Linked DNA regions of Homo sapiens: region 1 is linked to region 2. The links come from fine-mapping of genetic effects on gene expression. A gene starts in region 2. The other region holds a variant in brackets. All regions are shown on one strand. Distances are between the middles of the regions.

What was found. PIP is the estimated chance that this variant, and not a neighbour inherited with it, causes the effect.
Region 1: its variant is fine-mapped to the expression of CLBA1 in ileum (GTEx, PIP 0.92).

The regions. Positions count from the first base shown.
Region 1 is chr14:104,228,155-104,231,048 of GRCh38, reverse strand. The region is part of intron 1 of LINC02691 (long intergenic non-protein coding RNA 2691); the gene reads right to left. Among named protein-coding and RNA genes, the nearest start is that of LINC02691, 6.0 kb to the right of the region's middle. The variant C/T (reference allele first, on the strand shown) is at 1,265.
Region 2 is chr14:104,984,415-104,987,308 of GRCh38, reverse strand. It overlaps CLBA1 (clathrin binding box of aftiphilin containing 1), which reads right to left and starts at 1,521. Exons shown (of 5, transcript NM_174891.4): 1 at 455-1,521. The coding sequence starts at 877. RefSeq lists a silencer at 1,263-1,732.

The sequences.
Region 1 (2,894 bases), 760 kb after region 2:
TCCAACATCCCCACCAGGACAGCCTTGTAAGCAATGAAATGGTTAAGGCCTCCCAGCCCAGCAGAATTGGCTCATTATCATTTCTAATATGGATCAATACTCTTCAGGCATCTGACAAAGCCGGCAGCTCTCTGTTCCCTTCCTGCCCTCCAAACATAAAAGATCCCCTAAGCCACACTGGCCCGGGGCTCTGGCCCTAGCCCCCTCCTCAGGCCTCATCTCCATAGTGGTCTTAATCAAGTCGTGGGGAAAGATGCAAGTCAATAAGTCCTCATTGATCACCTCCTCTCCCCTCCACCCCACTGACATTCTGTCAGCCCCTCCCCCACAGCCAGCCGGGCTAATGGGGGTCCTTGCCTCCCACGTAGGTAGTGGGTGGGGGGTGCTCGTGAAAGCCCTGATTGCTCTGAGGCCCAGGGCCTCCGTCGCAGCGAGGGCTCCAACACAACATATGCCTCCTGCCCGACGGCTTTGTCTTCAACAATAAAACAGGGTTTCTCTCCCGCCTCAGCCCTGGGTCCAATTTATCAGGCCTGGCACTGATCATCTGCTTCCCTGTCACCAGCCGGACTTGGGGGATAAATATAGGCAAGCAGATACAGAATTACCGTGACCAGATCTCTCTGGGTCGGGAACAAAAACCACTTTACACTCCTTATGAAGCATTTCCACCATCACAGACATGAAGGCAAAGGGGCGGGACCCCAGCAACCAACGGGAGCTCATCCTTCCCCTTGTAAGAGCCAGAGGAAGCTGCCACATGGAGCTCCCAGGCTGTGTTCCTTTGGGAAGTCACCTGCAGTGACTGAGCCTCAGTTTCCCATCAGGGACACCTACCTTGCAGGGCTGCGACAAGCACTCACGGAGAGAATAAAACAAAGGATCTTCCACTGAGCTTAGCAGACAGTGGGTGCTCCGTGAACGGCAGTTAGCGCTGCTGCCTTTAACGGTGCGACTGTCCACAGCCAGGTATGGCATTCGGGATGTGTCACGTCCACGCCCCACGGAAATGTCAGTGACAGTTCGCACCCTTGTTCGTCCTCAGCCATCACTCCTAGAGCTGCCATCTGCAGACAGTGACCAGCTCAGGGTGGCACCACAGGCCCGCCCTGCCCTTTTGAGGCTCTGCAGGGCTGCCGCAGGAGCTCCAGGTAGATTGATGCCCGCCTGTGGCAGAGGTCCCCAGCGGCTCTGCACAACATCTCAACAAATGTTCCTGGACAGGCGGCCTGGGCTGGAAGCCGATCAAACACCATAAATACTG[C/T]GCACCCAAGGCCGTGACTACATTACCGCACGGTGTGTAAATAACAGGCCCGGGGTGGAAACACCCGGGAACAACCTCTAGCCAAGTAATTTATGCCCCTGTGAAACCCGATTAGATCCCAGCTAAGTGACTTCGCGGACGGGCAGGCCGCTTTGGAGAGAGAGAGACTGAGTGAGCGGCCACCACAAGCACCCAGGGGGGCCTTCGTGGGGCCATCATCTCCCCTGTGAGGGGGCAGGCTTGGAGCTCAGGCATCCCATCAGGCTGGGTGGGGTAGCATCTTGGTGACCCAGGCCACCCAGGGGTGATGACCCCACTTTAGCGTGTGGTGGGAGGCACCCTGCAGATGCATCCTACCCAGGCAGGATGGACACCCCGTCCGCAGCCCCTGGGACACAGCAGGCCCAGCCTCTCGGTGCATTTCAGTCTAAATGTAGATGCAAGTTCAGTCAAGGCCTCAGCCAGGAGCCGCCCTGCACAACGAGGCTAGCATTACATGTGCCCCTCCTGGGCAGGGTCCCCGGCAGATGGAAAACATGGGCCTGGGGCGGGGACGGCTCCTGACCCAGGATAAGGACCACAGTGGCCAGGTCAGGGTGGCACCACAGGCCTGCTCTGCCATGCCAGCCCTGCCAGGCTGACCACAGTTAGCAGGGTCTGTCAGAGGTGGCCGGGGCAGCAGGAGGGCAGGACACAGCCCAGGCCTTGAGGCAGGCACCACTCAAGAGCAACCGGCCACCAAGTCCTCCCTCAGAAGGGGCTTGTGTCACATCCCCTTGCACTCCCCGCTGCTCCCCCTCCACAGCCCCCCAAAGGGGCTCTACCCCTGGTGCCCATTTCCCCATGGCCCACATACCCCAAGTGCTGCCCCACGGCTACTGCTCCTGCCTTCTCGCTGAGCCTCGCCTTGGGCCCACCCTGCTCCCTGCTTCCCTCTGGCCTGGCCACTCACCAGGCAGTTGGGGCACACTGGTGTGCAGATCTGGGGGCCGGGCACTGAAGTCAGCTCAGGCTCAGAAGCCAGGCAGAGCTGGGTTCAAATCCCAGCACTGCCCGTCTTAGCTGAGTGACTTGAACAAGTAATGTTAACCCAGCCTCAGTTTACTCCTCTGTAAAGGAGACAATAGTGCCTCCCCTGATTTCCCTGATAGGGGTGGGTATCCCAAGTGAGAGAGAGAAGGTCAGTACCCAGAAAACCCTGGGGGACGGTAAGAGAGTGCTCTGGAAGCCACCTGTGGCTACTGGCCAGGTGGCAGTGGTGAGGGAGGGGTGGGTGAGGCTCAGGAATCTGGACCCATGGGAACAAGGGCTGCACTGGGACCCAGGCTGCGGGCGTCCCCTCTCGCCACCTTGGGCAAAGTACTCCACCTCTGTGAGCTCCCAGGGGGCCCTGTCTACCCATCCTCACAGGAACACAGGAAGGATCTGGTCACGTCACCTCTGCTCAAGCCCTCTGGTGGCTTCCTAGTATTTCTAGAGTCAAGTCCAAGGCCTTTCCACCTCGTACCCAGCTTCCTGCCCATTCACTCCACCCTCCTGCCACCACCAAAGTCTACGCTCCAATCACCTTGAACAAGTTACTCTTCCCAAGCAATTCTACCTCTCCATGCCTCCCCCTAGAGTCACCTTA
Region 2 (2,894 bases):
GACAGGTTGGATCCCGCGTCACCCAATTCATTACAAGCAAGTTGAAATGTGATCATGTGATTTTAGAATCTCTGAGACTTTTGAACTCAGCAGATTCAGAATTCAGACAAAAAGCTCCTCCTCAAATGCCCTGAGCTGGGGCCAGTGCAGCCCCCACCAATGGGGAATGGACAGGCTGGGGGAGGAATGGTCAGAAAGAGCGACCCAGCTCAGGTGGCCCCCACCTGGCCTTCGTGTGACCCATTTCTGCAGCCTCCTCTGCCAACTCATTGCTTCCCTGGCCTCAGGATGGGACTGCCAACCACATGGCCAGGGACGAAGGCCAGGAGAGAAGCAGACGCTCTGGGGCTGTCAGCCCCCTCCCTGGCCAGCACGCCACAGCATTCGAGGGCTGTAGGCCTCTTGGTGTGTACACGTCCCACTCAACATGGTGACCACAGCACAGCAGAAATACCTCAGAAGGTGGGACGGCAGAAGTTCCTGTCACCCAAGGTCCACCCTGGCATGGTTGGTGAGAACTGCACTCTTTTGGGGCAGAAGTGGTTCTCGGTGGCTGGGGTTCTGTGGGTCCCTCGAGGAGTTCAAGGGACTGTGAGAATTGTCCAGACTTGGCTGAAGATTCCCGAAAGCCTTCAAACTCCCCCCAAGTGCTGCTGTGTTCCCCAGGGTCAGGACATCGGGCAGTGCAGGTGGAACCGCCCTCACGGGGCATGGAGATGCTGGCTTTCCCATCGGACAGGAGAAGGTCGGGGCAGGTCCGTCTCCATTCCAAACTGTCATCACTCAGCCTCTCAGGTGCCACTCGGAGGGAAGCGCTGGCTGCTTCCTCCTGGAGGTCACTCAAAGGCTCTCCCCCCAGCTCCCGCCGGCCTTGCATCTTGGAGCCCCCAGGCCAGCAGAGGCCCGATGGGCAGCTGCTCAGGAGACATGCACGCCGGGGTGCTGGCCGCCCAGGACTGCCCAACCTTCCCCTGCCCTGGAGAGGGCCAGGGGACGCTGCAGGAGTGCCCCGGGCTGCCCAGTGGCTGACGGTGGAAAGTGCCCACGTGCTGCTGTGGAACTGACACAAACCACAGGAATGGCCCGGTCGCCCGGGAGTCCTGGCTTCCTCCCACGCAGGCGGGCGCGGAGTCCGACACAGAGGCGCGTACCAGACCCACGGCAGGTGTGAGAGGGGCGGCCCAAGGTGGGGCTCCTGCTCTGGAGAGAGCCGCGAGGGGGCCTGGGAGGCCCACGCTGGCCAGAGGAGCGAGAGCCGGGCGCCCGCGGGAGTCCCAAGTGGGAAGGAGTGGGTGCGGCGCCCCGGGGCCTCCCGAGAGTCCCTCTCGCACGCGGCCCGCAGAGCAGCCCTGGAACGCCTGGGCCTGGACAGGGCCCGAGGTGGCCGGCTAAGCGCCTGGCCCACGGCTCCCGAGAGTCCCCGCACCCACCTTGGTCGCCGCCTCGGCGGGGCCGCGCGGGACCAGGGCGAGAGAAACCTGCAACCAGCCGTTCCCTCCTGCCTGCGCCGCCCCGTTGCCTGGCAACGGCGTGCGCCAGCTCCGCTTCCGGCGTCCGTCGCCGTGGCGTCAGCACGCATCCGGGGCGAGGCCAGCGCCGGCCCCCGCCGTTCAGGACCCGCCCCGGACCCGCCCTCCCTGCCCCGGGCCGCCTCCGCTGCGGGTGGGATCGGGCTTCCACACTGGCCGAGCCCTGGGCGCCGGGCCGCTCGAGCTTTCTGTCCGTGCTCAGTTCGCCGCCCGAGTGGTTCTTTCTTTTTTTTTTTTTTCTTTTTTTTTTGAGACGGAGTCTCGCTCTGTCGCCCAGGCTGGAGAGCAGTGGCGCGATCTCGACTCACTGCAAGCTCCGCCTCCCGGGTTCACGCCATTCTCCTGCCTCAGCCTCCCGAGTAGCTGGGACTACAGGCGCCCGCCACCACGCCCGGCTGATTTTTTTGTATTTTAATAGAGACTGGGTTTCACCGTGTTAGCCAGGATGGTCTCGATTTCCTGACCTCGTGATCCGCCCGCCTCGGCCTCCCAAAGTGCTGGGATTACAGGCTTGAGCCACTGGGCCTGGCCCTAGAGTGGTTCTTTCTTCCTCACGACGAGCTCCCCAGGTCCGTCCCAGCGCACCCGTCACCCGCAGCCCCTTCTCCCGGCGCCCCGCAGCCTAACTTGCCGCGCCGCCGACCCCTCTGTGGGTGCAGCTGAGCGACGGCCCCTCAGGACCCCACCTGTCCCTGGCGAGAGCCAAGTCCGTCTTGCTGACTCCTGAATCCCAAAACCTCGCCCGCCCCTAACTCGTCCCCATTCCTGGGGGAAGGAGCTGCGGGGAGGCTCCACCCCTCCCTCGCAGGCCGCATGGAGTGCTCCCCTCCTTTGTCACCAGCCAGACCCGGGCAGAGCAGGGCTGACGGACAGCCCCTCTCCAGCCACTGGACGACCAAGGAGCTAGGCTGGCCTCTGGCAGCTCCCCTCCGGGCTTCCAGGCCTTCTGCCATCTGCCCTCACCCCCAGACTCAAGGAGTCAACCTTGACTCCATCTCCTCCCTGGCCTTCCCAGACTGGCCCCCATCACTGCCTCCTCTGGGTAAGGGGAGGGCCTGGCCCTGGTGAAGCCCTGAACCATGCCACCTACTGTCCACCCCCTATCTACCTCAGGCTCGCATTTCTCCCACCCTGGGGCCTGGGGCCCTGCCTGGACTCTGTCCTTGCTTGAATCACCCCTTCCCTCCCTGGTCCTTCTCAGCCAAGCTACAGAACAATTTAATTTTACAAATGACAAGATGAGATCATTCTCTGCACCTTAGACCCAGCCTCCTGTCCCCGCTCCTTCCTGAGGGGCAGAGCAGCCGGGCCATGCAGTATGGAAGCTCTTCGGTCAGACTGCCCAGGACTGGATCTTGGCTTGGC